4 separate regions of the Homo sapiens genome follow, and regions 1, 2 and 4 are each linked to region 3. Evidence: fine-mapped expression QTL. A gene starts in region 3. Each other region holds a variant in brackets. All regions are shown on one strand. Distances are from middle to middle.

Region 1 (8,103 bases), 490 kb after region 3:
GAGGCCAGGCTCCGGGACGTGCTGCAGCGCGCCGGGCCCGAGCGTTTCCTGCTGCAGGAGGTGGAGACGCAGGAGGGCCTCGGGGACGCGGAGGCCGAGGCGGCGGCCGGCGCGGTGGGCGGTGGCGGCACCTCCGCCTGGAGGGTGGTGGCCGTGTCCTCTGTGCGCCTCTGCGCCCGCTACCAGCGCGGCGAGTGCCAGGCCTGCGACCAGCTGCACTTCTGCCGCCGGCACATGCTGGGCAAGTGCCCCAACCGGGACTGCTGGTGAGAAGGCGGCGGCGGGCGGGGACTGTGGGCGCTGGCCGCGGGCCTGGCCGTCCTGCTGGAAGCGGGAGCGACGGGAAGGGGGGCTTCGTCCTGCCCCGGGCCGGGGACGCGGGGCTGGACGACCCCCTCCCGCAGGCCTTTCCTGGGCGTCCTCCCCCGCGCTTCCAGCAGCTGGGCGGAAAGGCGCGAAGGTCCTCTCCATGGAGACGTCTCAACCGCCCACGCCAGAAAAGTTGCTGCCCCCGCCCGCCCCCCCGGATCCTGCGCGACGCGGCCGGGTTAAATCCGGACTGGGACTTCGGAGCTCACTTATTCTGGTGATATTTGGCGGGAGGTGGGGGGCGTGGGGCGTCTGAGGATCCCATGAGATCCCTGGACCCTTTAGCCGGAAATCGCTGCTCCCCCATATCCACACACTTGTGCAGAAGCGGGTCTGCGCCCTCTAGGTTTAACAGCGCTGAGCCAGTCTCACCCCAGGAAACAGGGCTGGATGGCTTGGGTGAGGCCCTGTGGTTCCTGACTGCCAGAGCTGGGGTTCGGGGCTGCCTCCTGACCCCAGGCTGTGCTTCACAGCCCCGAATTTTCCTTGGTTGTCTCTAGCCACACACCCCGCCAAAGCGGTGCTGGGGATAGGGGCGCTTTCTTTTTAACGTTGGTGGACTGTGGCAGCTGTTGCCGGGGAGAAGGCCAGGTGCAGTCGCCTACGGAACAGATGTGCATCCTCAGGCGAGGTGGGCGACCCTTGGCTTCAAAGCATCCCTACTGAAAATTCAAATGACCCTGGGAGAGGAGTTCCTTCAACCCAATTTTCTTATTTTCCATCAGTGCTTATTAGGCCATACTATCCCCGGTTTCATGAAAATTACTCAACTTCACATGTATTAAATACATTGAAAGCTGCTCAAGGCAAGGAATTGGACAGACTGGTCCTTCTTCACCTGGGCATCTGACCGAGGGCTTTGTTCTTTTAGGTCTACCTGTACCCTTTCCCATGATATCCACACACCTGTCAACATGCAGGTCCTGAAAAGCCATGGACTTTTTGGTCTCAATGAAAACCAGCTTCGGATCCTGCTTTTGCAGAATGACCCCTGTCTTTTACCAGAGGTGAGTCACCAAGGAGTCACCCTCATGTCACATTTGCTACAAGTACTTTCCCCATTTATTTTTCTTTTGGCTTTACATATTAATTTTAATTGCCTTCGAAGCAACATGATTCAGTTTCAAATGCTTTAAAGGTACCCTTTATAATTGCTATCATGGCGAAATAGTACGTTTGTTTCAGTTTAGCCATACACAAAGAAGTTTTAAAAACAAAATAGTACAAATCCCAAGAGAAAATTGGAACATCAATTAAGACCACCAATTAAAAGCAAGATTTTCTAATCTAGCACAGTGATGCTATCATAGACACCTCCACTTGGCCAGAAGAGGGATGGGAAGAAGGGGAGATGTTGAGAAAACAGAGGATAGTTCATAATTGTGGCCTGATTTTAACTCTAATGCATTTCAGCGTCTAGAAAGGAAGATAGCCACAAGACTAGAGGTAGGAGCTGGAGCCTTTGGTGCAGGTGGCAGAGGCTGCTCTCAAGGCAGCAGAATCTGTACCCAGAAGGCAGTCCTGGAGTTGATCTCAGGAACAAGCAGGTTTCTTCCTGACATGCATAACCTGTTTCATTTCTTCGAGCACTGAAGCCAAGTCTGGTATGTCACGGTTGTGAGCCAGAGGCATTCCAACCAACCATGTTGCCCAAAGTAGATGCAAGCAGTAGCTGAAGCAGGTTATTGGCAGGAAGGGAGAGGAGGGTGGCTGCACCTATGAGGCTGGGTCCAGTCCTTCCTGTCTCAGAGAGAAGGCGTGGTGCCGCTGCTATTTGCCTTTTAATTTTATAGTACTTTTTGATTTATAGAAGTTTAGTGTTTTTATTTTGTCAAATCTATCGAATGTTTTTTTGGTATGCCCTTTTTTAGGATGTATCTTGGGCCCAGCCTCACCTTGTCATATTAGACTACTTCAGTGTTTTGTGAGCAGCTGATGGGTTGGCTGCACTTACAACAGGAGCCTCCCCTGTGCCTCCACTTGTCCCCATCACCTGGGACTGGAAGTAGGTGACATGTGGCACAAAACGTGATCATGTGGGCAGCAGGGACTGTGGAAAAACACAGTGCATGAGGCAAGAATGGTGCCTCACATCTCTTGTATGAAATGCCTGATGATTGCTTTTACCACTCTCTCAATAAAAAAGACAATAGACAGGTAAAGTTTCATGCTGGTGCATTGATGGACAAATTTCTAGAAAAATACAGCTTGTCAAAATGGATTCAAGAAGAAACGGAAAGCCAAAATAGTGTCATAAAAATTTTTAAAATAAAAGCATTAAACAAACCTCAAAGCATTAGTTAGAAGGCTTGCACAAGAAAACATCAGACTTATATAGTTTTTTTTTTTTTGAGACAGGGTCTTACTCTCTCACACAGGCTGGAAGTACCTCGGCTCACTGTAGCCTCTGCCTCCTGAGTTCAAGTGATTCTCCCACCTCAGTCTCCTGAATAGTTGGGACTACAGGCACGTGCCACCATGCCCAGCTAATTTTTGTACTTTTTGGTAGAGATAGCGTTTCACCATGTTGGCCGGGCTGGTCTTATATGCCTGACCTCAAGTGATCCCTCTGCCTCAGCCTCCTAAAGTGCTGGGATTACAGGCGTGAGCCACTGCGCCTGGCCAGGCTTATATAGTTTCATAGTTGAATTCTATCAAATTTTTGTCTTTATTGAAGTGTAGTTGACAAATAAAAATTTTATATTTACAGTGTACAATGTGGTGTTTTAATATATTTACATTGTGAATTGATTGCAATGATTAAGCTAATTAGCATACCATTACTTTACATGGCTATTATTTTTTGGGTGTGGTAAGGACAGCAATTTTCAGGTATACAGTATGTTATTTTTTTAAATTTTATTTTATTTTTTATTTATTTTATTTTATTTTTATTTTTATTTTATTTTATTTATTTCTTTTTTTTTGAGATGGAGTCTCACTCTATCACCCAGGCTGGAGTGCAGTGGTGAGGTCTCGGCTCACTGCAAGCTCTGCTCCCGGGTTCATGCCATTCTTCTGCCTCAGCCTCCCGACAGGCGCCCACCATGATGCCCAGCTAATTTTTTGTATTTTGTTTAGTAGAGATGGGGTTTCACCTTGTTAGCCAGGATGGTCTCGATCTCCTGACCTCGTGATCCGCCCACCTCAGCCTCCCAGAGTGCTGGGATTATAGGTGTGAGCCACTGTGCCTGGCCATTATGTTATTATTAACTACAGTCACCTTGCCGTACAGTGGATTTCCAGAAATTCATCCTGTTTAATTGAAACTTTGTTCCCTTCGACCTACATATCCCTATTCTCCTTAATTTTAACAAATCTATAAGGAACAGGCTGTTCCTTATATTTGGAGTAGGTGTAGGATCTATTTTCCATGATCTCCAATTCTTGAACCACTATCATACTAATTAAAGTAGTTTATCTTTCATTTTTAAAGTTTATTTACTCTTTTAGAGACATGGTCTCGCTGTGTCACCCAGGCTGGAGTGCAGAGACAGGGTTTTGCCATGTTGCCCAGGCTGGTCATAGCTCACTGCAACCTCGATCTCCTGGGCTCAAGCAATCCTCGCACTTCAGCCTCTCGAGTAGCTGGGACTGCAGGTGTACACCACCGCACCCAGCTACTTTTTTTTGTTTTGTTTTTTTGAGATGGAATCTTGCTCTATCGCCCAGGCTGGAGTGCAGTGGTGTGATCTCAGCTCACTGCAATCTCCACCTCCCTGGTTCAAGCGATTCTCCTGCCTCAGCCTCCCAAGTAGCTGGGATTGCAGGCGCTTGCCACCATACCCAGCTAGTTTTTTGTATTTTGAGTAGAGATGGGGTTTGTCATTTTGGCCAGGCTGGCCTTGAACTCTTGACCTCAAGTGATCCGCCCACCTTGGCCTCCCAAAGTGCTGGGATAACAGGCGTGAGCCATAGCGCCTGGCCCCCAGATACTTTTTTTTGTTTTTGTTTGTTTGTTTTGTAGACAGAGTCTTGCTCTGTCGCCCAGACTGGAGTGCAGTGGCGTGATCTTAGCTCATTGCCACCTCTGCCTCCCAGGTTCAAGCAATTCTCGTGCCTCAGCCTCCCTAGTAGCTGGGACTGCAAGCAAGTGCCACCATGCCTAGTTAATTCGTTGTGTTTTTAGTAGAGACAGGGTTTCACCATGTTGCTCAGGCTGATCTCAAACTCCTGAGCTCAGGCAATCCGCCTGCCTTGGCCTCCCACAGTGTTAGGATTACAGGCATGAGCCACTGTGCCCAGTCCACTTTTTAAATTTTTCTGTAGAGACAGAGTCTTGCTGTGTTGCCTAGGCTGGTCTTGAACTCCTTGGCTCAAGCAATTTGCCATCCTTGGTCTCCCAAAGTGCTAGGAGTACAGCCATGAGCCACTGTGCCTGTCTAATTTTGTTTGTTTGTTTAATCAGTTCATGT[C/T]TCCTTTTCCAGATAAGCTTTAGAATCACTTAAATTCCTAAAACTATTTTAAAGGAATTCTTTGAGAAGGGTAGAAATTGCATTAAAGTTACGAATTTATTTTAGAAAATTGGCATCACAATTATAAATAGGATGCTATTTCATTTTAAACCAGGTCATCTGTGTCTTGTAGGATTTCCCATATTTTAGATTTGACTGATTACATTCCTGTAGTACTATTGAACATGTTCCTGTATCCCTCAAATTTTGATCAGATTTAGGATTTATTTCACTTTATTTAATTAATTAATTAATTAATTAATTATTATTATTTTTTGAGATGGAGACTCACTCTGTCGTCCAGCCTGGAGTGCAGTGGCGTGATCTCGGCTCACTGCAACCTCTGCCACCCAGGTTAAGCAATTCTGCCTCAGCCTCCCAAGCAGCTGGGATTACAGGTGCCACCATGACTGGCTAATTTTTGTATTTTTGGTAGAGACGGGGTTTCACCATATTGGCCAGGCTGGTCTTGAACTCCTGACCTTTTGATCCACCCACCTTGGCCTCCCAAAGTGCTAGGATTACAGGTGTGAGCCACCACACCGGGCCTTATTTATTTTTGAAATGGAGTCTCGCTCTGTCGCCCAGGCTGGAGTGCAGTGGCGCAATCTCAGCTCACTGCAACCTCCGCCTCTATTTTATTTTATTTTTAAGACGGAGTCTCGCTGTGTTGCCCAGGCTGGAGTGCAATGGCACAATCTTGGCTCACTGCAACCTCCACCTCCCCGGTTCATGTAATTCTTCTGCCTCAGCCTCCCCAGTAGCTGGAATTACAGGCGTGTGCCATCATGCCTGGCTAACTTTTGTATTTTTAATAGAGTCAGGGTTTCACCGTGTTGGCCAGGCTGTTATGAACTCCTGACCTCAGGTGATCCTTCTGCCTTGGCCTCCCAAAGTGCTGGGATTACAGGTGTGAGGCACCGCGCCCAGCCAGGATTTATTTTATAGCAAGAGTTTTTTTACGTGTGCAGCATTGTTAGGGTGACTCAGCAGCCCATTTGCCTGGGACTGAGGGGTTGCCGGGGATGTCAGACTTTCATAGTAAAACCTGGACAGTTCTATTTCTGTTGCATCACATCAGGAGGCATATAATGTCATCTTTGTGTGAGCGGCCAAGACTGATGCGTGGTTTCAGGGTCAACAGCCTGATCCCATCATTATAAAGTTCCCTATCAATGTGGTCTTGGTGTGTCTGGGATAGACCCAGTTTATATTAGTTGTCCCAGTGTGATTATTAATAGTGCTCCCTTGCAGCCTAAAAATGCCCTCGTCTGGATCATAAATTAGATCTTTGTGCCACCCGTTGAAACTGGTTTCCCTGGAAGCAGAGCCTGAGATAGAGACCCAGGTATGTGTGATTTTTTTGAGGGCGGGCTTTTCAGGAAAACCCAGTGTGGGAGAGAGGGAAGCAGGGTCTAAGGAAGGAAAAGCTACAAGCACATAAGGTCTGGCCTTGACTTCATTCATGGGGAGCTGTGGAACAAAGATCACGTTGAGTCTAGCTTTGAGGCACTCTAGCATTTTTTTAGCTTTATCTAAGTCATTCATTGGCTACAGGCTTTGGGGACAGAGGGCAGTTCAGCTGAGAGTGTAAAGTAAGAGGGGGCAGCTGTGAGTCACAAGCAGCCAGTGCCCACAGCAGCGGGAGTATGGTTAGCACCACTACACTATCATCAGGCTTTCCCCCAAAGATTTTAACAGCCACTGGTGATCAGAAGATGTCATTTAGTCTTCAGTTTAGCTAGAGAAGCTATAGTCTTTTGGCTTAAAAGATAGAGTGAAAACTAATATTGGCCGGGTGTGGTGGCTCACACCTGTAATCCCAGCACTTTTGAGAGGCTGAGGTGGGCAGATCACCTGAGGTGAGGAGTTGGAGACCAGCCTGGCCAACATGGTGAAACCCCGTCTCTTCTAAAAATACAAAAATTAGCTGGCTGTGGTGGTGAACGCCTGTATTCTCAGCTACTCGGGAGGCTGAGGCAGGAGAATTGCTTGAACGCGGGAGATGGAGGTTGCAGTGAGCCAAGATGGTGCCACTGTACTCCAGCCTGGGTGACAGAGCGAGACTCCATCTCCCCGCTGCCAAAAAAAAAAGAAAAACTAATATTTCAGGTGTTCCCTCATTTCTGTACCAGGTCTGTTTGCTCTACAACAAAGGGGAAGCCCTGTATGGCTACTGCAACCTCAAGGATAAATGCAACAAGTTTCATGTGTGCAAATCCTTTGTGAAAGGAGAATGCAAACTTCAGACCTGCAAACGGTCCCATCAGCTTATCCATGCTGCATCTTTGAAGCTGCTACAGGACCAAGGACTGAATATTCCAAGTGTTGTTAATTTTCAGATAATCTCCACCTACAAGCATATGAAGCTGCACAAGATGCTTGAAAATACAGGTAGGAATATCCAAGAAGGACAGAGAAGTATCAGCGATATGGTTTTGCGATGCTTCACTGTGAAGAAGTAAGAACAGTGACATGAAAGTGAGTCTGGGGGCAAAGCAGTTCCTATGTTAATTTCATCTTTGTTCTTGGGAAAGTTTAGAACAGGCAACATTGTATTGTATAGAACGGTGATCCTAACCAAAGGAGAGAAGGGATGGAGTTTATCTTTAGCACTGTCACTGCTAGCTACTAGAATCTACCCAAGTGATTGAACAGTAGCTTGTTGGTAAATTGGATGTCAGGAAGTAGGTAGAACAGGTTTTGTTTTTGTTTTTTTTTTTGAGACAGAGTCTCAGTCTGTCGCCCAGGCTAGAGTGCAGTGGCGCGATCGGGGCTCACTGCATCCTCTGCCTCCCGGGTTCAAGCGATTCTTCTGCCTCAGCCTCCCGAGTAGCTGAGACTACAGGCATGCGCCACCATGCCCAGCTAATTTTTGTATTCTTAGTCGAGGCGGGGTTTCACCATGTTGGCCAGGATGGTCTCAATCTCTTGACCTCATGATCTGCCTGCCTTGGCCTCCCAAAGTGCTGGGATTTCAGGCATGAGCCACACGCCCGGCCTAGTAGAACAGTTTTAATGGCATAGTTAGGAAAAAGAGGAAGGAGATGGGCCGGTGAGTGGAAAAGTAAGATTAATGTAGGGATGGCTTTCTTGTCATAAATATAATTTTTGGCTTTGTTAATTTTTAAGTAATTTTAATGACATTACAGAACAATTTGGAAAATAGCAACTGGAAATGAAAATTGTATATGATTTTGCTCACTCTAATCTACTATACTTGTTACAATTTTATTATAGGCCCTTCAGTTCTGTTATATACAAACACGAATCCAATTGT
Region 2 (8,103 bases), 26 kb before region 3:
TTACCTTAAGGAGTGGGGACTGATCTGGAAGGAACAAACATGAGCAAGCTTTTTGGAATGATGGAAATGTTCTGAAAATTGATAAGAATGTGGGCTTTATGAGTGTATGCAATTGTCAAAACTCATTAAAATGTACATAAGATCTATGCATTTCCATATATGTAACTATAGCTCAAAAAATAAGTATTATAAGACACAGGAAGAAGCAGGAAAATAAATAATCAATATAAGCCGCAGAAGAAATAATCAGTAGAAACAGACCCACAGATATTAGCAGGTAAAGACTCTAAAATAACTATTATATCCCTGTGGGGGCACAAAAAATAAAAGAATAAAATAAAATAACTATAATGAATATGTTAAAGAAAAATTAAAAATATATTTGGTTAGTGAAAGGATAGATAATTTCAGCAGAGAAATGGAAACTATAAAAGAACCAAGAAGAAATTGAAGAATTGAAAAGTACATTATCTAAAATGAAAAATCTATTGAACAAAATCTAACAGCAAACTGGACACAGCAGAAGAAAGTAACACTTAACTCAAAGACTTGTCAGTAGAAAATATTCAAACTGGCTAGGCATGGTGGCTCACACCCAGAATTTTGAGAGGCCGAGGCAGAAAAATTGCTTGAGCCCAGGAGTTCAAGACCAGCCTGGACAACACAGGGAGAGTGTGTCTCTACAATACCTTAAAAATTAGCAGGCCATGGTGGTACACGCCTATAGTCCCAGACACTTGGGAGGCTGAGGCAGGAGGATCACTTGAGCCTGGGAGGTCAAGGTTGCAGTGAGCTATGATCACACCACTGTACTCTAGCCTGGGTGACAGAGTGAGATCCTGTCTCTAAAAAAAAAAGAAGGAAAAAAAAAATTTATATATACACACAGACATATACATACATACACATATATAACAGCCCTAATTGGAATCTTGGAAGGAGAGAAGAAACAGAAGAGTACAGCAGAAAAAAATGTTTAAAGAGATAAAAGTGGAGAATTTTTCAAAATTGATGAAAGACATAAACTCACAAAATCAAGAATTTAACTCCACACAGCATACAGCTAGACTCTATTTCTCAGCCTTCCATGACCACCCTGGCCAATAAATGTAGGCAGAAGTTTTGTGTGTCACCTCCAGATCTGGCCCTTGTCTAATACAGGTTAAGATATGCCATAGCAACAAACTCAAAATCTCAGAGCCCTTATTTCTCACTTAAACAGTCCAAGCCAGCCAGGAACGGTGGCTCACGCCTATAATCCCAGCACTCTGAGAGGCCAAGGTGGGCGTATCACTTGAGGCCAAGAGTTCAAGACCAGCCTGACCAACATGGTGACACCCCATCTCTACTAAAAATACAAAAATTAGCCGGGCGTGGTGGCAGCTGCCAGTAATCCCACCTACTCAGGAAGAAGCTGAGGCAAGAGAATCACTTGAACCGGGAGGCAGAGGTTGCAGTGAGCTGAGCTCGCGCAACTGCACTCCAGCCTGGGCGACAAAGCGAGATTCCACCTCAAAACAAACAAAAAACCAGTCCAAGCAACTCTCCAGGAAACCTGTCCCCTACATATTGGCTTAGCATCCCAGGATGCTTCAGTCTTATGGAACCTCCAAATCAATCACTACAATGGGGAGGGAAAATATGAAGCAGACATTGGTTCTTAAATGCTTCCACCTAAAAATGACAATGTGTCACTTTTCCTTGGTAAAAGCAAGTCACATGGACACCTAACTTCAAGAGGTCAGGAAATACAGTCCTTCCATCTGCTTGGAGACAAAGAAAAGTGACAAATATTAGTGCAGGGCAGTCATACCTATCACATCCCTCAGTGCACATGCTGTGTGAATGGCTCCTGATTGGAGCCAAATGGTTTCTATCACTGACCCACAGTAGTCTGTGGTGTGAGCAAGAAATACAGTTATCCCTCTGCATCCATGAGGGATTGGCTCCAGGACCCCCCATAGATACCAAAATTTGCAGATCCTCAATTCTCTTATATAAAATGACATATGACCTACGCATATCCTCTCGTACACTTTAAATAATCTCTGGATTACTTATAATACCTAATACAATGTAAATACTATGCAAATAATTGTGGGTTTTTTTGTTTTTTTTTTTTTTGAGACAGAGTCTCACTCTGTGGCGTGCAGTGGCGCGATCTTGGCTCACTGCAGCCTCCACCTCCCGGGTTCAAGCAACTCTCCTGCCTCAGCCTCCCAAGGAGCTGGGGTTACAGGCGTGTGCTACCATGCCCAGGTAATTTTCATATTTTTAGTAGAGACAGGGTCTCACCATGTTGCCCAGGCTCGTCTCGAACTCCTGACCTCAGGTGATCCACCTGTCTTGGCCTCCCAAAGTGCTAGGATTACAGGCATGAGCCACTGCAAATAATTGCTATATTATGTTCTTTTATTGTTTGTTTTTCAAATAGTTTCAATCCATGGTTGGTTGAACCCGCGGATGCAGAACCCACAGATGTGAAGGGCCAGCCTCTGAAATTTGGGTATTGTTACAGAAGCTAGCACAATGCTTTGCACAATACCTAGTCCATAAGAAGCTCTTAATTAATGTTGTTATTGTTATTCCAATTTATTATTACTCTTATTCCAGGTATTGTTGTTCCAATTTTGTCTTCGTTGTATATTTATCTGCTGAAAAGGAGTCTGTCCTCTAAACCACAGAACCCTAATAGATATCCTAAGTGGCTGGTCATCTCATTTATCTTTTTCTCAAAACCATCTGCAAGTTTCCTACTTTGTGGGCAGCTGAATTGGAAATGTGGGTTTCTAGGATCACAGACAGCATGGTGTAAAGAAAAGAGGATTTGAACCCGGAGGCAAGATCAGTTTAATTCAACACACATTTATGGAGCACCTTCTGTATGTACCAGGTGCTAGGGCTACAAAGGAGTGTGAGACTGGGTCCCTGCTCTCTAGGAGCTCACACCTCTGCATGAATGATGGACTAGTAAACAATTGAACAAAGCATGACACGTGCAATAATGAATATAAAGCAGAACAGGAGAGCCACACGGCCTGAGTGACATGACCTAGGATGTGTTACTTAACTGCTCTGGGCCTCATGGATAGTGAGATGGGGTAGATCATTTCTAGCCCCTGAAATATTAACATTTACAATTCTCAAAGCCCTGTGAAGTCAGCAGGGCAATTATTATTCCAGCCTTATAGACAGATGTAAAGCTTGAGGTCAGAGAGGTTTCATGTGGCGGCCTGAGCTACACAACTGCTTGTTGGTAGAACCAGACCCAGATTCAGGCAGGCCTTGGGAGCTGTATATAGTGCGTCCACTCCAGGCTGCCGTGGCAGACAGCGGGGAATCTCTGATGGGTGTGGCAAGGGGCTTTCTTGTTGCTCCCAATTTGAATCCCATACTTACAGTTTGGAGCTGGCCACAGACCAAGAGGAAACAGGCAGATACCCCTCCACCTGCTTCTGGTGCAAGCACTCAGCAGAGAGTGGGCATTTCTGAAAACCAGGTCACCTCTCACAGAACAATACAGTGATATCATATGGACAGGATTTTCCCAGTGATCGCAGGACCCTTCAAAACCAACCCCGGTCACTGATGACAACATTCCCGGGCCTGGCTTCCTCTTCCAGCTGTCTCCTCATCACTGGGCTTAGTGTGTGATGTGAAGGACACTCGGGAGATAGAGGCAGCTTTCCCTCAGCACCCCTGGACTTTTGGGCCACCCCACCCTCAACCCATCCAGCATGTGCACACTTAGGGAATGTGAATGAGCTCATTTAACATAAGCAAGGAGCTCACATTGGCTGTGCCTCTGAAATCATGCCACCAAAACCAAAAAGACAAGGCTCTGGACAATAGCCAGCCATCACTACCTCCCACCATAGCAAA[T/C]AGTTCACAGATGACACTACAGGCAATCTTATTATCATATACAGCAATTTCTGAGCATCTGCTATGTGTACTAAAAAGAGACCAAAAACACACAGTCCCTGCCATCTAGGGGCCACTATGGAGAGGCTTATAATCAGATGACAGGAATGGTCAGATGACAGGAATGGTCAGATGACACAAAGAGAAGAGTCACAAGATGACAAGGCCACACAGACACAGGGCCATGTAAGAGGCTCAGTCTTAAGAGGCAGAGACTTTGGGCAAAGGGAGTGGTCACGAGTGCTGTTGCTGCCAGGGAGGCATCCCAGGGAGGCTGGAGCTGGGCCTTAAAGGAAGAGAAGGACAGAAGTCATTCTTCACATCACCCACTCTTCCATGGGTAATTCACTGAATATCGTGTGATGAAGATAAAGTCATCCAGAAAAAGAATTGCCCGTGGGCATGCAGATGTCCTTTCCCAGGGTGGCCCCTTCTCAGCCACTGGCACACCCACCAGTGCCGCTCCATCCTCAGGGCTGGCCAGCACAGCAGGCAGCTCACCTGCCACACATGCAGCTCACCTGACACATGCAGCTCACCTGCCATACATGCAGCTTTCCGAGGTCCCTGTGGGGATGGGTCTGGGTTCAAATCCTGGCTTTGCCACCACCCAACAAATCCTGGCTTTGCCACCTCCCAACTGTATACTATGGGGCAAGTCCCATAGCTGCTGAGCTGGGCTGATCATGCTGACCTGGCAGGGCTATGAGGAAGATGCATACAATACTAGTTAATCCTCTAGGACAGCACCAAATGCTACCACCCAGTAAAGCTTCTTAAAAAGTCTTTCCTAGGGCCGGGAGCAGTGGCTTATGCCTGTAATCCTAGCACTTTGGGAGGCCAAGGCAGGCAGATCACCTGAAGTCAGGAGTTTGAGACCAGCCTGGCCAACATGGCAAAACCCCATCTCTACTAAAAACACAAAAATTACCCAGGCATGGTGGCACGTGCCTGTAATCCCAGCTACTCAGGAGGCTGAGGAAGGAGAATCACTTGAACTCGAGAGGCAGAGGTTGCAGTGAGCTGAGATCGCACCACTGCACTCCAGCCTGGGCAACAAAGCAAGACTCCCTTTCAAAAAAAATAAATAATAGGCCAGGCGCGGTGGCTCATGCCTGTTATCCCAGCACTTTGGGAGGACAAGGCGGGCAGATTAAGAGGTCAAGAGTTCGAGACTAGCCTAACCAACATGGTGAAACCCTGTCTCTACTAAAAATACAAAAAATTAGCTGGGCGTGGTGGTGTACGCCTGTAATCTCAGTTACTTGGGAGGCTGAGGCAGGAGAATTGCTGGAACCTGGGAGGCGGAGGTTGCAGTGAGCCGAGATCACGCCACTGCACTCCAGCCTGGGTGACAGCGAGACTCCGTCTCAGATAATAATAATAATAATAAATAATAAATAAAATTAAATAAAAAAAAAAGTCTCTCCTGGGTATCCTCCATCACAAAGTACCTCTGTGCGTGGCTGTGTGTGTGCTCCGGCTTCTACTAGCCCCCTGCCTACTGGGATTAGGGCTCAAATTTGCCTAGGGAGCACCTTCCCCAGCTCTGAGCTCCAAGGCCAGTCACCCCAAAAAGGAAAAATCTGCCCCAGGGGATAAGGAGCGAGACTTGGGGAGATGCGGTCCTACAGACCCTCCTTGCTGAAGGAGACATGAGCTCTGGGGATCAGAAACAAGTAGCATGTCTGCCCTCAGTGCTGCTGCCTCTAGCTGCTGAGAACACAGCACGGGGTGCCAAGGCCACGCAAACTGAGCCTGTTGTTCAGCCCACAAAGGGGACAGGGGTGGCCTGGCTGGTCTGTAACCCTTGGAAGGATTTCTGACATTTCTGAAGTTAGGTGTACAGGGTTTTGTTTTTATCTTGTACTTCCTTCATTGGTAGAAAAGAGTTTGAAAAAATCTTTCTTTTTTTTTTTTAAGACAGAGTCTCCCTCTGTCGCCCAGGCTGGAGTGCAGTGGTGCGATCTCGGCTCACTGCAACCTCCGTGTCCCAGGTTCAAGCAATTCTCTGCCTCAGCCTCTTGAGTAGCTGGGATTACAGGCGCCCGCCACCATGCCCAGCTAATTTTTGTATTTTTAGTAGAGACGGGGTTTCACCATGTTGGTCAGGCTGGTCTCAAACTCCTGACCTCATGATCCACCTGCCTTGGCCTCCCAAAGTGCTGGGATTACAGGCATGAGCCACTGCACCCGGCCTGAACATGGATGACCCTGGATCAGGGCACATGCTCTGCCAAACTGATTTAGAATTGTTGCATGGTCCCAGGACAAACCTAAAGTTAAAAGAGCTTATTTGCCACTAGGCTTTAAAAGCTTCAGGCAGGAGGCTTTGGATCATTTAATAAAAAATAAAACCCAGGTCAGACGCAGTGGCTCACATCTGTAATCCCAGCACCTTGGGAGGCCGAGGCAGGCAGATCACCTGAGGTCAGGAGTTCAAGACCAGCCTGGCCAACATGGTGAAACCCTGTCTCTACTAAAAATACAAAAATTAGCCAGGCATGGTGGCACTCACCTGTAGTCCCAGCTACTCGGGAGGCTGAGGCAGGAGAATCACTTGAACCCAGGAGGCAGAGGTTGCAGTGAGCCAAGATTGCGCCACTGCACTCCAGCCTGGGCGACAGAGTGAGAGTCTTTCTCAGAAAAATAAATAAATAAATAATAAATAAAATAAAACCCGAACGGCACAGGTTACCCATTCTGTGTCCTCTCACATTGCTTCCCTGAACTCCCAGGGCAGGAGGAAAGCAGGGCTCTGAAGCCCTCGGCCACGTGGTTCTCAGGACTCTGGCAAGGTAGTTTACTCACCTTTGGAAGTGTGCCCTGCCTCGGGCATCTCTGCAAGAATTAAGGGAGCTGCCATATGTAAAGCAAAAAGTACTGAGGCTTTTGAACCTCACTGTCTTTGAGGGGTGGATACTGGTGAGAAACACGGGCTTATATGTAACTGAGAACAGGTGGGAGTGTGGGACTCCCACCGGAGAAGTGGCAGCAGCTGACCACTTCCTCGCCCCTCAGCCCCTCACAGCCACCCCTACAGGCCCACCATCACCAGCTGAATTCCCTTAACTACTTTATTGTATACTCAGGTGCCCCACTGGCTTCCCAGTGACAGCAAAATATAAAACCATAAACCACCTGTATTTTATGAAATATCTGGAAAGCACGCGGAAAATGTAACAAACCCAAGTTGGTGGTTTTGTCTGAAGACTGTAAAACCAGTACTAGGACTGTGCAGAGCACAGCAGGACCCGGTTTCTCTGAGCTATTTTCTGAAAATGGGCCAGGACCCAAATGCACACACTGGGCTCCCAGGCAGGCCACCCACATCTCATCTGCCCGGGGTTATCAGGAGGCTGGAGAGGCCTGGGCTCCACAGCTGGAGCCTCAAGTGTGTGTGGAGGAGAGCATGGAGCCCCCACAGACCCGAGGGCATTGCCTGCCAACCCCATGCCCCGACTGCTTCCTCCCCAGGCAGCTCAAGGGGGATAGGAAGAGGCCATAAGACTTTCACAAACTCTTTTCCAGCCCAATGTGAACACCACCTAATTTTCATGTTCACTTCATTCCATCCTGCCCCGATGCAGAATAAACCATCCCTTGACTATGTTCCAGAATGTTCTAGCACTTTCTGAACTGTTTCCTCTGCTCCTTGCGTGCTTCTTGGGGGATTAAGGCCAGAGATCCCCCATGCCTGGTGTGGTGTCTGGCTTGCGGTAGGTGTGAATAAACGTTTGTCATCTTGAGGTGACTAGCAATGAAGGAGCTGGAACAGCCACGTAAGAATACCTTAAAGGCTTAGCAACATGAAACGATGTCCTGAGGCCAGAAGGTGCTTTTTTTTCATCCTCACACACCGCTATCTGCTGCACTAGAGCAGGTGCATTTTGTGGTAGCCCCCACAGACTGGCACCCAGAGATGTGCCCCTCTCTGCCCCTCCCCGAGCTCTGACTCTGGAACAAATGGCGGCAGACTTCTCTGGACATGAGATATTAACTCTTTATTCCGTTAGTGACCAATACAACAGCACCACGGACACAGCAGGGGCCCTGCCTGAGAACCCAGGCAAGGCAAAGAAGGGGGATGCAGGGGACCTCTGGGGCCCGGGGCGGGGCTGGCCCGGCCTAGGTGAGGGGGAAGCTTTCCCAGCCTACCTCCGCCGGCAGCCAGGAGAGAAA
Region 3 (8,103 bases):
AGTGTTTCATTACGTGAACTCTGGACTCAGGTTTGGGGTGGGAAGCAGAATCAAGGGAGGCTGACCAGAAGTCCAAGTGTTGCAGTTAGGCCTGGGCTCCCCCAGCAGGGGCTGCAGGAGGCCAAGTCCAGGCAGCTGGGAAGAGGAGTCACCATACACACAGCCCACACTCCAGGGCCTCTGTCTACCTGAGAGGTAGAAATCATGACCTGACTTGGCAGATAAGGAAGCAAATGGTCCAGGAAGTTGGAAAGCCCGCCAGCCTGTGGCAATGGAAGGCTCTGCCCCAGCTTTACCAGATGCTCTGCTTCCTGCACCTCCCCACACTGCCTCAGTCCCTGTCCTGGAACCTCTGAGAGAACATAAATGTGCCCAGGGCCCAGAATGGTACCCGGATGTTGCAGAAAGAATGAATGCATGATGGAGACAAATACAAAAGCCAGCACTGGGCCAATGCAGCAGCACCCTGGAGAGGAGCAGCCCTGCTCCATGAGCTCCTTTCTTCTGGGTCCTCCAGAAGAGGACCTCTCCTTCCGTCTGGGTCCGCCAGACCCGTCTCTCTCTACCCTGCCCCACCCCAGTACTCCAGGGCTCAGTTCCTACATGGGACAAACTAGCTCTGGCCACCTGGCCCAGAACACATCGTGCTCTGGGTCTGGGACACCTTTCCCTCTGTCTCCTCTCAGGCTCCTTTCCCAGGCTCCTCTCAGAAGAGAGGAGCTTGGGGGCACCCAAGAAGACCTTCAGAGAACTGGCAGAAGGGAGGCCCCTGGCCAGACTCAGACTCCAGATTCTAAAACTCCTGTGGGAAAAGTCAGTAGGCCCAAGATGCTGAGTACCCAAGGACCACAGGCCATCAGGAGTGGGACTGCTCCTGGGGAGACCAGGGGAAGGAAGGGGAGGGGACTGCAGGTGGCATGAGTCAGAGAGCAAGGCAAGGCAGGGGGCCATGGTGAGGCAAGGCTGGACCACAGGAAGATGCTAAGCATGGGAGTGGGCTTGACTCAGGGCCCCAGGCAGCCTCTGGGTGACCTTCCAGCTTGGTGTGTGGTCTGTTCTGCAGCCTGACTGGCAGGTGGGCAGCCCAGCCACAGTGGGGAGGAGGAAGCACAAGGGGGTGGAAGTCAGGGCAGGAGGTGGACAGGAACAGCAAGCAGGAGGCATTAAAGGGCCACAGCAGCCCAGAAGCAGCCCTACCATGGGGGCTGGGGTTAAGGTTAGGGCAGACCCTTCAGAAATGCTGACGAATAAATGAATGAAGAAATACAGGCAAGAGGAGGGAACAACTTCAAGAAATAGCTTTGGCAGGAGTGAAGCGTGGGAACACAGGGCCACTCCAACAGTAAAGCCGGAGACAGCGTCACGGGGGGGTGTCTGACCACCTCCATCCATTCCACACAACTCTTCACAACCCACAGCTCTGCTACAGCTCTTCTCCTTGGTGACGCAACATCTTCGCCTCCTCTGTCCCTGCCACTGTCTGGTGGTCCAGCTTCAGAGTCTGCACAGCCCTTCCTCGGACAGTGCACGTCCCCTGGCCCATAGCCTTTGTGCAGAAGGCTGGCATTACCATCCCCACCTCGCCATCCTCAGCAGCCCCATGACCTGCCTTGGCCCAGCTGCTGGTTATGTCCCTCCTGGTCCACTGCCCCACCCCCTCCCTGACCTCGAGCCTGGGTCCCACCCCTCTGGGCCACCACCAGTCTTCCAAGGGCAAGCCCACCATCTCCACCCCTCAGTAGCCCCTTCAGAACAAAGTCCAAGCTCCTGGGCAAGGCCTGGCTGGCCCTTCACCGTCTGGGTCCTTCAGGCCCGTCTCTCTCCACCCTGCCCCATCTCAGTACTCCAGGGCTCAGTTCCCACGTGGCACAGAGTAGCTCTGACCACCTGGCCTGGGATACGTCATGCTCTGGGTCTGGAACACCTTCCCCTCTGTCTCCACGCCTGCTAAGAGGTCACCTACTCCTGGGAAGCCCTCCTTTTCTGACACTGCCTCCCTAAGGATGGGTGATCCAGGCTCCAGGCTTCCCTAGTTAATGCTGCCCAGGTCCTCCTTGTCCTTGGATTCAGGGTGCCAGGAGCACCCTGAGAAGCACCCAAAGGGCCAGCCACCCTCTCACCAACTCCTGCATCTCCCACACCACACGCCGCCGGCGGTAGCTAATACAAGTTTCCTTAAAGAGCTCATGAACTTGAAATCAATTCTCTACTTGGGTTACTGCCCCGGAGGCAGGCCAGGGGTCCCTCCCTGAGGCAGTCTGATGGAGGAGTAGGTGTGACCCCTGACCTTGCAAGGAAGAGCCTCTCCTGGATTCTCCACCCCTGCCCTGCCCTGCCCTCCCCACATGCCCCACCACCACGGGGTCCCCGCGGCTCTCACAGGGGCGGGCACCACCTCTGGGGTCTCCAGCTTTCTTACTTTACTCGAAGCGTGTTCACGACCACAGATTCCGCCACCCTCTCAACACGCCTGTCTGGTGGGTGTCAGGCAGTGTTTGTCCCCTTCATGCGTGAGGAGACGAAGGCTCAGAGCGTGAAGCCCGCTCCAAGGTCAGAGAGGGAGTCGCAGCAGAGGCGGGGTCGAGGCTGTGACTCGCGGTGGCCCCCGGTTCCCTCCCACCCCACCCCACGAACCGGCGTCTGGCCGCCCTGAAATGAATGACTCCGCCGCGTCCCGGCGCCGCGCTCCCAGCGCTCCCCTCCGGGACAGCGGCCAAGGTGACTCTGACCGCCTCCGGGTCGCGGGTCGGGCCTGGGCAGGGGTCCCTGGGCCAGGAGAGGGAGGCCGCTCCGCGCTTACCCTCCAAGGCCGCCTTCCAGCTGGTGCTGCCCTCGTAGCCCGACCCGGATCGCCGCAGCAGCCCCTCGGGGCCGCGGGCCTCAGCCTCTGCGGGCGAACGCGGCCTGGGGGCGGCGGGGGCGGGCGCGGGGCGCGCGGCGAGGGGCGGCGGCGGCCGGGCCCGCGAGGGGGGCTCCCGGGCCGGCTCCATGCGGGGCGCTCCGCCGCGCCGCGCCCGCGCTCCTGCACCGGGGTGCGGGGCCCAGCCCGACGCGCACTCGGCGCTCCGCGCGCCCTGCGGGCCCCCCAGGCCGGCCTCGGGTGGGCTAGGACCGCGGCGCTGGCAGGCCGGGGCTGAGCCCGGCTCCCCGCGCTGGAGCCTCTGCGCCGGGTGCCGCCGCGGTGCGCTCAGCGCCTGCCCCGCCGAGCCGCAGCCTCCACGCACAGCCGGGCTGGGGAGGAGCGCGAGGCGGCGCGCGGGAGCCGGGAGCCGTGGACCCGGGCGGGGCGGGGCAGGGGCGGAGAGGGAGGAGGCGCGGAGGAGCGGGGACAGCCGGCTCCCCGACCCCGCCACCTGGGCTGGAGGCTGGATGCTGTCGAGCTGGGAGCGCAGTCTTGGAGCCGGGAGACCTGGTTCTAACTCAGCTCCATCTCCCCAGCCGCCTGCTCACCATCTGTGAAAATGGGAATAAAGTTCGCGGGGACAGTGCAGGGAGGCTCAGGGAAGATGAGCGCCTTTCTTCCCGGCTGCCCTGGAGCCACAGCAGAGGGTGGTAGGGGCTGTGACTTGACCCCCAAACTCTTGATAAAGGAGAGAAACGTCCGAACGATGAGCACAGAGACAGTAGAGTCTAAAGGAGCAAGCGAAGTGACGTTGCAGATTCAATTAACATTTATTGAGCACCTACTAAGCGCCAGGGACTTTCACATATTATTAGCTGACAATGCCCCCAGGTGAGGCTGAGAAGTGGAATTTTGAGGTCAAGGACATTTCCGAAGGCGGCGCCAGGCAGGTGCGTGCTTGGCGGGTGTCTGACTCCCAGGCCAGGGCTCCCTCCGGAGCCTTCACTGGCCCCTTGCCTCAGCTGACCTCGCGTCGCCTGAAGCCCCACGCCTCCAGCCCTGATCCTCTTCCCCCTCCACCATTCTCAGCCCCAACCTCTGGTTCCTGTCTCCATCTTCAGTTCCTCATCCCCAGCTCCTCCTGCTCCCTCCCCCAAATCCAATAGGCCACTGACTCTTGTGAATTCTCCCTTTTAAAATATTTTTATTTTTATTTTTTGAGACAGGGTCTCGTTCTGTAGCCCAGGCTGGAGTGCAGTGTCACTACAGCCTCGGCCTCCCAGGCTCAAGCGATCCTCCCACCTGGGTCTCCCAAAGTTCTAGGATTGCAGGCGTGAGCTGCCGTGCCCGGCCCCTTTTTTTTTTTTTTTTTTTTTTTGAGACGGAGTCTCGCTCTGTCGCCCAGGCTGGAGTGCAGTGGCGGGATCTCGGCTCACTGCAAGCTCCGCCTCCCGGGTTCACGCCATTCTCCTGCCTCAGCCTCCCAAGTAGCTGGGACTACAGGCGCCCGCCACTACGCCCGGCTAATTTTTTTGTATTTTTAGTAGAGACGGGGTTTCACCGTTTTAGCCGGGATGGTCTCGATCTCCTGACCTCGTGATCCGCCCGCCTCGGCCTCCCAAAGTGCTGGGATTACAGGCGTGAGCCACCGCGCCCGGCCGCCCGGCCCCTTTTAAACTCTTAGTCTGCGCATTGCACTCCATCCCTCTAGCCACTGGCCAAGTACAAGCCAATGCCTTCTCTTGCCCGACCACAGCAGCAGCCTTCTAAGGGGTCTCCCATCCTCCACTCTTGCTCCCTCCTATCCAGCCCCTCCCCCTCCACACCCGCAGCATCTACCTAAAGTGCAAACTCACCACTCCTTCAGGGGTCCCTTTACCTGTGGATTAAGGCCATCTTTTTACAAGGCCTCAAGGTCCCTCATGGTCAAAGTCCTGCTCCTACCTAAGGCATCCTCTCCTCCCACCCCTTCTCTGCCAGCCCTAGACACACCTAACTATTCTGACTCTTTCCTCTGGGCCTTTGAACACTGTCTTCCTTCTGCCTGGAACACATCTCCTCCTTGGTCCTTCTAACCCCTCCTTGTAGCCCCCATGCACCCTAGTTTGCCTACCAAATTTCTGCTAATGCTTCTGATTGCACAGTCTCTAGGATACTGCATTCATTCAGAGTAGGTTCAACAAGACTACAACAGAAAACCCCAGTAAGAGTTTAACTAGAAAGAAGGTTTTTGTTTTTTGTTTTTTGGTTTTTTGTGTTTTTTTTACCTGAAAGAAGTCTAGAGGTGATCAGCCCAGGGCTGGATTGAGAGCTCCAAGATCATCAGGGACCCTAGCTCTTCCTCTCATTCTGCTCCCATCATCCTTAGTATATAGCCTACATCTTCAGGATTCCCTCATGGTCACACTATAGCCACTGTGGTTCCAGCCATCACACCTGCACACCAGATTACAGAAAGAGGAAGAACCAAGGGGAAAAGGGCATGCCTCTTGTTGAATCAGACTCCTTTAAAGAGTTTTTCTGGAACCCCCAGTGATTTCCACTTACCTTCCACTGGACACTTCTTTCTCAAGTAAGTTTGTGGAGTATAGTGGCAATTAGCTAAAGCCATTGCCACGCTCAATAATGCAGAGATTCTGTTAGGAAGAAGGGGGGAATGGAATATGTGCATGACCAGCAATCCCTGCCTCCTAAGCCTCCTGTGATCCCAGACTGTGGCACCTGTCCTTTGGGCCTTTGGAACACTCTCCACCTCTCTTCCCATAGCACTTGCCACATCCTACTGTCATTGTTTGATCCCCAACCAGATGGCCAGCTGTGGGGTGAGGGCAGAGGCACTGCTCTATCCCCCATTCCTAGGGCAGTGCCCCATTGGAACACCAGGCCCAAAGCTTCAGACTTCATGTAGGCACAAGGAAGCATCAAAGGTGTTTGAGCAGAGAAAGGTCATGATCACACCATGCTTTAGGAAAATTAACTTTGGGCTCTCCCTCTCCCTCCCCCTCCCCCTCCCCCTCCCTCTCCCTCTCCCCTCTTTCCACGGTCTCCCTCTGATGCCGAGCCGAAGCTGGACTGTGCTGCTGCCATCTCGGCTCACTGCAACCTCCCTGCCTGATTCTCCTGCCTCAGCCTGCCGAGTGCCTGCGATTGCAGGGGCGCGCCGCCACGCCTGACTGGTTTTCGTATTTTTTGGGTGGAGACAGGGTTTCGCTGTGTTGGCCGGGCTGGTCTCCAGCTCCTAACCGCGAGTGATCCGCCAGCCTCGGCCTCCCGAGGTGCCGGGATTGCAGACGGAGTCTCCTTCACTCAGTGCTCAATGGTGCCCAGGCTGGAGTGCAGTGGCGTGATCTCGGCTCGCTACAACATCCACCTCCCAGCCGCCTGCCTTGGCCTCCCAAAGTGCCGAGATTGCAGCCTCTGCCCGGCTGCCACCCCGTCTGGGAAGTGAGGAGCGTCTCTGACTGGCCGCCCATCATCTGGGATGTGAGGAGCCTCTCTGCCTGGCTGCCCAGTCTGGGAAGTGAGGAGCGTCTCTGCCTGGCCGCCCATCGTCTGGGATGTGAGGAGCCTCTCTGCCTGGCTGCCCAGTCTGGAAAGTGAGGAGTGCCTCTTCCCGGCCGCCATCCCATCTAGGAAGTGAGGAGCGTCTCTGCCCCGCCGCCCCGTCTGGGATGTGAGGAGCGCCTCTGCCCGGCCGCCCATCGTCTGAGATGTGGGGAGCGCCTCTGCCCTGTCGCCCCGTCCGGGATGTGAGGAGCGTCTCTCCCCGGCCGCCCCGTCTGAGAAGTGAGGAGACCCTCTGCCTGGCAACCGCCCTGTCTGAGAAGTGAGGAGCGTCTCCGCCCGGCAGCCACCCCGTCCGGGAGGGAGATGGGGGGGTCAGCCCCCCGCCCGGCCAGCCGCCCCGTCCCGGAGGGAGGTGGGGGGATCAGCCCCCCGCCCGGCCGCCGCCCCGTCCGGGAGGTGAGGGGCGCCTCTACCCGGCCGCCCCTACTGGGAAGTGAGGAGCCCCTCTGCCCGGCCACCACCCCGTCTGGGAGGTGTACCCAACAGCTCATTGAGAACGGGCCATGATGACAATGGCAGTTTTGTGGAATAGAAAGGTGGGAAAGGTGGGGAAAAGATTGAGAAATCGTGGTTGCCGGGCATGGTGGTGGGTGCCTGTAGTCCCAGCTACTCGGGAGGCTGAGGCAGGAGAATGGCATGAACCCGGGAGGCAGAGTTTGCAGTGAGCGGAGATCATGTCACTGCACTCCAGCCTGGGAGATAGAGCCAGATGGTTGCCGTGTCTGTGTAGAAAGAGGTAGACATGGGAGACTTTTCATTTTGTTCTGTACTAAGAAAAATTCTTCTGCCTTGGGATCCTGTTGATCTATGACCTTACCCCCAACCCTGTGCTCTCTGAAACATGTGCTGTGTCCACTCAGGGTTAAATGGATTAAGGGCGGTGCAAGATGTGCTTTGTTAAACAGATGCTTGAAGGCAGCATGCTCGTTAAGAGTCATCACCACTCCCTAATCTCAAGTACCCAGGGACACAAACACTGCGGAAGGCCGCAGGGTCCTCTGCCTAGGAAAACCAGAGAACTTTATTCACTTGTTTATCTGCTGACCTTCCCTCCACTATTGTCCTGTGACCCTGCCAAATCCCCCTCTGCGAGAAACACCCAAGAATGATCAATAAAAAAAAAAATAATAAAATAAAAAATAAAAAATAAAAAAAAGAAAATTAACTTTGGTACCAGGTACAAACCAGTCTGGGAGCAGATCAGCAAAGAAACTCTTGAAATAAACGGTTAAGATAAAAGGAGTAACAAAGGTGTAATACCAACGCATCGGCAGTGGCGCTGACCTTAGAAGGCTTCCGACAGTCAATCACAATACTTCAGGACCTATCAGAGGTAGGATCTAAGCCTCCCAGAGTCCCCGCACGCCCTTGTCAGCTTCCCTGCTCCTCTCCTGATGCTTCCTGGGATCACTTCCGAAATAAATTACTTGCACTTAAATCCTTGTGTCAGGGTATGTTTTGGGGGGAACCCAAAAGACAATGACCCTTACGGCTGTGAAAGGGTCCACTTCCTCAAGAAGGAGGTGCTCATGAAAATGGATAAAACCCATCAAGACCCCCCGCCCTAGGCCGGGCGCGGTGGCTCACGCCTGTAATCCCAACACTTTGGGAGGTTGAGGCAGGTGGATCACTTGGGATCAGGCGTTCAAGACCAGCCTGCCCAACGTTGCGAAACCCCGTCTCTACTAAAAATA
Region 4 (8,103 bases), 28 kb after region 3:
CTGAAGAATCAGGTGGAAAACAGCCCTCCCATGGCCTGTGAAAGCGTCCTGGGCAAAAATGCAGTGGAATCAATAAGCCAGCTGGTGGAGCTCCCGCCTGGAACCAGGGCTCCTTATGTTGTTGTTCATGAGTGGGCTTCAGGTTGTGACCCCCTGAAACTGAAATGTATAGGTATTTACTAGGGAGAGGGTTCCCAACTTTTACTGGAGTTTCCAAGGAATCTATATACAAACCAATTTGGAACTACTTCCCTAGAAACTCCCATTACCCACAAGTGAAATAATAAACCGATTTTTCCTGAAGTGTAAAAGGTTCATCACGAAACTAGAATTGTTAGCAATGAAAGCAAAGCTTTAAACTTGACAATGGTCGATCTCCCAAGCTGGGCCTTGAAATTCCCATCAGAGTTATATATGTGGATTTATAAAGTGCAGTCTGAGCCCCCGTGATCACAAAATGGCAAATGATTTTGTCCTCGGGGGCCTGGTGTCTCTGATGGGTACTCAGTAGTAGGAGTGTCTATTCCCTTAGGGAGGAGGGTGGACCTCAGTGGATCCATGGACTTGGTCCCAAGATCGTTAGAGATGTTAGATTTGTCCCTTAGAAGATCACTTCTATATATCGGAGGCAGTGACTCATGCCTGTAATCCCAGTACTTTGGGAGGCTGAGGTGGGCGCATCACTTGAGCTCAGGAGCTCGCGACTAGCCTGGGCAACTTCGCAAAACCCGTCTCTAAAAAAAAAAAAAAAAAAAAAAAATTAGCCTGGTGTAGTAGCACACACCTGTAATCGCAGCTGCTCAGGAGGCTGAGGCATGAGAACCATTTGAACCTGGGAGGCGGGGATTGTAGTTAGCAGAGATCGAGCCACTGCACTCCAGCCTGGGCAACAGAGTGAGACTCTGTCTCAAAAAAAAAAAAAAAAAGACGGTCACATCTACGGAAGGGTTTTGTTCACTTCAGCCAGAGCTAAGTGATGGCTGACAATTTCCACTTGTCTGACGCCCTCATGATGTTTTTTTGTTTGTTTGTTTGTTTGTTTGTTTTTTGAGATGGGGTCTCGCTCTGTTGCCCAGGCTGGAGTGCAGTGGCACAATCTCAGCTCACTTTAACCTCCGCCTCCTGGGTTCAAGCGATTCTTCTCCCTCAGCCTCCTGAGTAGCTGGGATTACAGGTGCCTGCCACCACGCCTGGCTAATTTTTGTATTTTTAATAGAGGTGGGGTTCTATCATGTTGCCCAGGCTGTTCTCGAACTCCTGAGCTCAAGTGATCCGCCCACCTCAGCCTCCCAAAGTGCTGGGATTACAGACAAGAGCCACTGCGTCCGGCTTCAAGATGTTTATGATTAGGACCCAAACTGGTCCAACTTTCTTTCTCATTCTCCCATTCATCTGACCCTGATCCTCCTCTACTCTTCACCCTTAACATATTTATATCTGCTTAGAATTCAGCAAAGCGAAACTCTGCATCCTGAAAACCTGAGCAGGCATTTTGGACCACATGTTCATGGCAACATAATCTGGATCATATTCACTGGGTCTGTGGTAGGGAACGTTCTCACTTTGCATTAAGAAAAGGACAACCAGATACCAACTTTTAGAAAATGAAATTAAAAATTTTAGCAAAGCATTTAAACTATTTTCTTTTTTTTTTTTTTTTTGAGATGGAGTCTCGCTCTGTCACCCAGGCTGGAGTGCAGTGGCGCAATGTCGGCTCACTGCAACGTCCACCTCCCAGGTTCAAGCAATTCTCCTGCCTCAGCCTCCTGAGTAGCTGGGACTGCAGGCGTGCACCACGTCCAGCTAATTTTTTCGTATTTTTAGTAGATACGAGGTTTCACCATGTTGGTCAGGCTGGTCTCGAACTCCTAATCTCAAATGGTCCACCTGCCTCGGCCTCCCAAAGTGCTGGGATTACAGGCATGAACCACCATGCCCGGCCTCAACTATTTTCTGAAGTAGATTTCCCCTGAAGCCAGAGGCTCCTCATCGGACATTTATTCTTCTCTAACTGACGAATGCGGCTTTTACTCGGGAGAAAAGCCTCTTTATGGGCTGTGACCATCTTCCTCCAGCCACCTGACTCCTCGTATTTGACAGGCTGGTGATCATGTTATGCTTGTACCACAAAGGACTGTGCAGATATCTGACCGGATATTCTCGCTGCTTGAAAAGCACATGTCTGATTCAACCCCGCGTGGTGCTGTCATGAAACCCTCCTCCCCAGCCAAGCCATATGCATGGATGTTAGTGTTGATGTGTTGTAGTGTCGTTGTGTGCCCCCAATCTCCCTTAAAGGCCATGGTTATTGCCAGAGTTATTAACCTGGGCCAAGGAGGGTCTGTCCTCACAACTCCCACTTTCAGGGGAATGAGGGAATTTCAGGCTTTTTCCGGGCCACAGTTGATTTGCACCCTTGAGGGTGGTCCCAACAGGTACAGAAGAGCTTGGCACAAAATGCCCATGGATAGCAAGTCCTGGCTGGGTTGTTCCCCCTGCCATTGCCAGTTTTGGGTTAATAGGGGCACTGAGGGCTGGATGTGTGGCGGGAGGTGGAGTGTAACCCTGAGCCCCTAGAGAAAAGGGACACGTGGTTTGGATTAAGGTCCAAAGGAGGATCTGGCCTTGAAGTGTGCTGGTTTTGGGGCCTGCAGGATGGAGTGACTGTGATTTGGGAGCAGGGTGTGGGGAATCCCTGGATTCTAGGGCTGCTCCCTTTTGGGGTGTGTGAGTGTCCCTGGAGAGGCACGGTGGTCATGTGAGACCCCTCCTCTGTTTCACACAGGCAAGTCCTTGAGTGTTCAGAATCCTCCCAATATCCGACAGCTCTCAGGAAGCATACTCTCCTGTCCTGAGGTGGGCAGAGGAGATGGAGAGAACAGGTGAAGGCAGGTCACAGAAGCAAGACAGGACTGACACGCACCAGGGCCTGGCTGGGCAGTGGACCTCAGACTGAGGACAGGCAGAGGTGGCCAGGCCAGTTCAGTCCTGATAGAGCCAACTCCAGGGCCCGAGAGACCATCAGGCAAAACTGACCCCCCAGAGGGCTGTGGCGCTGCTGAGGCTTTGCGTCTCCCCTTTAATCCTGAGCAGCCCAGGCTGCTCGCTGCCTCCAGCCCTGCTATCTACCCTGACATCCAGCTTTCCTGCAGTGGCCTGACTTCCCTGGGAGGACCAATCTCTTAGATCCAGGTGGAACCAGAATCTGGTGGGTTTTAAATGAATTCAGTCTCTTTGTCCTCATCGAGCTCCACACAGTCGGGCCAAAGTGGGTAGTCAGGGTCTTGTGAGGAGACCCCCACATCTTCCTCTGCAGTCTAGCAACCCATTGGGGCCCAGGCACAGGCTCTAGGAGAGGGGCTGTTCACCAGGGCTGCGCATTCAGCAGAGCAGGCTGTGGGCTGCTTAGCCCCAGCGGGTGCCATTCACCCAGTGCAGATGTGAATGA[G/C]ATCCCTGGAGTGGAGCAACTCATCATCCCTGCTCCTGACAGCAGTGACAAAAACACCCCGCTGATGGGTAGAGAGAGTCTGGTTTAAAATTAGCTCTTTCACTTTCCTATTGAGTCATTACCCCCCCCCCAAAAAAAGAGAGATTTTCTGCTTCCTCCTCTGAAGAGGGCAGTTGGACTTTTTATCCTGAAAATGGAAGTGTGCCTAGCCCCAGGGGAGAGTTGAGTGTTTTGTTTTTAAAAGCCTAGACTCATAAAATAATAATAATACAGGACGTTTGGAATCAAGGAAGCTTCCATGGGCTGAGAGCTAAGAATAGCCCAAGGATGGAGGAGGCTGATGGGACAGGTGTTCCCAGAGGGTCTGGGGAGGTGGCAGGCCCCCAGACTGGGGAGGGTGTGAGTGAAGGATGCCTGTAGGGGGTGGCCCTGAGAGTGTGGGCAGGTGCAATGGCTGTCAATGCCACATAAAGGGCAAGGGGATCTACATCCTAAACAGTGAAAGACCAGTGCCCGGAGACTACATCTACATCAGGAAGAAGAAGCAGCAAAATTCTGACCCACAGCCCAAGAGTGAGCATCCTTTTTCAGGACATTAATAAGCCCTGGGGTCCTTGTTTACTCTCTTGGGAGGAGGGGGTCACAGAATGCACACATAGTGAAGTTCTCATGTATTTTTACAAATGAGGGCTGGAACTGGATACAGTGTAACTTGGGGAAATAAGGAAGGTGACATTTCTCATACCTGAGAGTTGAGAAGCACATTACTACTCATCACTGACTTTTAGGAGCCCTGTCCACCAAAGGGACAACAGTAATGCAGAAATAGGAGAGGAAGTTGATAGGATTCAACCAACAAATAGTTCATCTCCACAGCTGTTTCCTGAGGTTCGGTGGGGTTGGACTTTAAAGAAAGTGAGATCAGGAGCCAGGTGTGGTGGCTCACGCCTGTTATCCCAGCCCTTGGGAGGCTGAGGCAGACAGATCACTTGAGGTCAGGAGTTCAAGACCAGTCTGGCCAACATGATGAAATCTCATCTCTACTAAAAATACAAAAATTAGCCGGGCATGGTGGCACACACCTGTACTCCCAGCTACTCAGGTGGGTGAGGCAGAAGAATCGCTTGAACCCAGGAGGTGGAGGTTGCAGTGAGCTGAGATCATGCCACTGCACTCCAGCTTGGGCGACGAGAGCAAAACTCCATCTCAAAAAGAAAGTGAGATCAGGGACATCAGGGATAGCACACTGCAGACACGATGGTTGAGCTAGGAGATCTCCCTTTAAAAACTCTCCCCTGGCTGGGCAGGTTGGACAATACCTGTAATCCCAGCATTTTGGGAGGTCAAGGTGGGAGGTTCGTTTGGAGGCCAGGAATTTGAGACCAGCCTGGGCAACATGACCAAGACCCTGTCTCTTAAATTTTTTTAAAAAAACTAGCCAGGCACTGTGCTATGTCCCTGCAGTCCCAGCTACTCAGGAGGCTGAGGCAAAAGGATTTCTTCAGCCCAGGAGATGAAGGCTGCATTTATTTTGATTGCACCACTGAGCTATGATCACACCACTGCACTCTAGCCAAAGTGACAGAGCAAGACCCTGTCTCTTAGACAAAAATTTAAAAATAAATTTTAAAACTTCCTTAAAAATCTCTTGCTTAAAAAACTAAGCACATGGGCTGGGCACAGTGGCTCACGCCTATAATCCCAACACTTTGAGAGGCCGAGGCAGGTGGATCACCTGAGGTCAGGAGTTCAAGACCAGCCTGGCCAACATGGTGAAACCCCTCTCTACTAAAATTACAAAAATTAGTTGGGAGTGGTAGCACACACCCGTAACCCCAGCTACTCGGGAGGCTGAGGTGGGAGAATCACTTGAACCTGGGAGGCAGAGGTTGCAGTGAGCTGAGATCATGCCACTGCACTCCAGCCTGGGTGATACAGTGAGACTCTGTCTCAAAAAAAAAAAAACAAACAAGGCCAGGCGCCGTGGCTCACACCTGTAATCTCAGCACTTTGAGAGGCCAAGGTGGGCAGATCACTTGAGGTCAGGAGTTCAAGACCAGCCTGGCCAACATGGTGAAACCCCGCCTCTACCAATAATACAAAAATTAGCCAGGCGTGGTGTCATGTGCCTGTAGTCCCAGCTACTTGGGAGGCTGAGGCAGGAGACTCGCTTGAACCCAGGAGGTGGAGGTTGCAGTGAGATGAGATCACGCCACTGCACTCCAGCCTGTGTGACAGAGCGAGACTCCATTTCAAAAACAACAAAACAAAACAAAACAAACAAAAAAGCCAAAGCAGATGGTCACCAAATCACATGTATATCCAAATACAAGATCATTCATATAAGGTGGGGGAGATACTGCAGCACGGCCTCTCCTTCTACCTGCAGGGAGTTTTCTGAAGGGAAGAAAGAGCCATGATTAGGCAGAACAGGAACTGGAGAAATCACAATAGATGAGGGGAACCTATGGTGAGGCAGTAGCACTAAGACTGCGGGAGAATAGTAAACTCTAGACCAAGCAGGCAGGATCCGGTCTAAGAGGCAAGGTGGAGTAGACGGTTTTCAATGGCAGGTTTTCACAACAGGCTAATGGATTCAGCTTTAAATGAGAGGGAAAAAGGGAAGGGAATGGCTAGGAACCATGTTGGGACAGACAACTGGGCCAAGCTTCAGGTGAGACTGACCTAAGGAAAGTCTGGCAGGAAATGGAGTCCAGGGCCTGGGCAGACTGGCCCTATGCTCAGGGGTTAGACAGGGAAGCTCCTGTGTGTTGAGTGTATTCACCAGAATTCATGTGTTGGAAATTTGGTCCCCAATGTGGCACTGTTGGGAGGTGAGGTTAGTAAGAGGTGACTAGATCATTAAGTGAAATCAATGCCTCTCTTGACAGCATAAATGGGTAAATTATTGCACTCACTTGCCCTTCCCCTTTGCTGCCATGTTATGATGCAACATGAAAGCCCTTACCAGAAGCTGCTGCCATGCCCTTGGACTTCCCAGTCTTTAGAACTATAAGAAATCACTTTCTTTTCTTTTCCTTTTTTTCATTTTTTATTTTTTTGAGACCAAGTCTCGTTCTGTTGCCCAGGCTTGAGTGCAGTGGTGTGATCTTGGCTCACTGCAACCTCTGCCTCCTGGGTTCAAGTGATTCTCCTGCATCAGCCCCCTGAGTAGCTGGGATTACAAGACATGTGCCACGACACCAGCTAATTTTTGTATCTTTGGTAGAGATGGGGTTTCACCATATTGGCCAGGCTGGTCCTGAACTCCTGACCTCAAGTGATCTGTCTGCCTTGGCCTCCCAAATTGCTGGGATTATAGGCATGAACCATTGCACCTGGCCTTTTCTTTTCTTTGTGAATTACTCAGTCTCAGAATACCTGGCAGGTATTCTGCTATAGCAACAGAAAATGGACTAAGACAGAAACTGAGGAGAGACTCCCAGCCACCTGCACATTAGTGGTGAAGGACCCCTGATACTTCCCAGGCCAGCTCTCCCTCCCATATTGGTTTAGGGTTTCAGTGTTAGGAGCCTGGCAGTGGGTGGCATGGGGCAGGCATGAGTCCCTTGCATCTCAGGGAATCAGAATATCTGGTGTCTCTCTATCTTGGGCAGTGCTAGAGAAACTTGCCAAATTCTTGTATTTGGGAGACCTTATATTCTACTCTTTTCTCCACTCCTCCCCACTTTTCCCTGAAAATGATTTCTTCATGGCTTTTTTTCCTGATTATAGAAATAATTACCACCTTTGTCTTAAAACACACATGAACACATAATAGCTGTTAATATATTTGATTAGACTACAATTTTCTACATTTAGTCATGACTTTCTGGTGGTGTATTCTAGGCCTTTGATTAGATTTTTGCAAGGCCTGTTTGATTTGGGGGATACTTAGGCCTCAAGACTCTTGGACTAGCAAATCTCATTCATAATGGGCTGATTTAGTTCAGAGGGGAAGAAGATACTATTATCCTTAAATCTGGGACCTCTTCACCAAGGTGCTCCTGGGCACTTGTACCTCCTCCCTTTGCTACCCTCAGTCTCTGGTGACAGGAGTCCCACACAGCCTGGCAGGAAAAGTCTGTTACACACCTGTGATGCAAGGAAGTGCTTTTCCTGGTCTCACATATCCAAGCCCAGCCCTACTCCATTGCTCCCCCAGGTCTCCTGGTCCTTCTACCTGCTCCCATCTAGGTCTTTCCAAGTATTGAACCCCAGACTCGACAAAGTCAGCTAACGCTGGGGACACTAATGCAGAGGAGAGCTAGGTCTGCCCCCCATATCCCTGAGCCACAGCTGTCTATCCACACCATTACAATCCCACAAGTGCTGCATTGGACAGGAAAGGATTCTGGGGATGGAGCTTCTAAAAGGGAGGGTTTTGTTTTGTTTTGTTTTTTCTTTTGAGACGGAGTCTCACTCTGTCACCCAGGCTGGAGTGCAGTGCCACAATCTCAGCTCACTGCAAACTCCACCTCCCGGGTTCAAGCGATTCTCCTGCCTCAGCTTCCTGAGTGGCTGAGATTATAGGCGCCTGCCACCACGCCCAGCCAATTTTTGTATTTTTAGTAGAGACGGAGTTTCACCATGTTGGTCAGGCTGGTCTCAAACTCCTGATCTCATGATCCAGTTTTTTTGTGTGTGTGTTTTGT

The links.
Region 1: its variant is fine-mapped to the expression of CLEC2L in whole blood (INTERVAL, PIP above 0.99).
Region 2: its variant is fine-mapped to the expression of CLEC2L in whole blood (INTERVAL, PIP 0.90).
Region 4: its variant is fine-mapped to the expression of CLEC2L in nucleus accumbens (GTEx, PIP 0.90).

What each region holds. Positions count from the first base shown.
Region 1 is chr7:139,027,816-139,035,918 of GRCh38, reverse strand. It overlaps ZC3HAV1L (ZC3HAV1 like), which reads left to right. Exons shown (of 5, transcript NM_080660.4): 1 at 1-266; 2 at 1,241-1,376; 3 at 6,959-7,217. Among named protein-coding and RNA genes, the nearest start is that of ZC3HAV1L, 4.2 kb to the left of the region's middle. RefSeq lists an enhancer at 1-470 and a silencer at 45-564. The variant C/T (reference allele first, on the strand shown) is at 4,785.
Region 2 is chr7:139,544,793-139,552,895 of GRCh38, reverse strand. CLEC2L (C-type lectin domain family 2 member L) reads right to left here. Exons shown (of 5, transcript NM_001080511.4): 5 at 7,911-8,103. Among named protein-coding and RNA genes, the nearest start is that of CLEC2L, 25 kb to the right of the region's middle. RefSeq lists an enhancer at 7,969-8,103. The variant T/C (reference allele first, on the strand shown) is at 3,883.
Region 3 is chr7:139,518,815-139,526,917 of GRCh38, reverse strand. CLEC2L (C-type lectin domain family 2 member L) reads right to left here and starts at 3,233. Exons shown (of 5, transcript NM_001080511.4): 1 at 2,801-3,233. The coding sequence starts at 2,990.
Region 4 is chr7:139,490,797-139,498,899 of GRCh38, reverse strand. No RefSeq gene overlaps it. Among named protein-coding and RNA genes, the nearest start is that of KLRG2, 11 kb to the right of the region's middle. RefSeq lists enhancers at 3,138-3,317, 3,878-3,927. The variant G/C (reference allele first, on the strand shown) is at 3,449.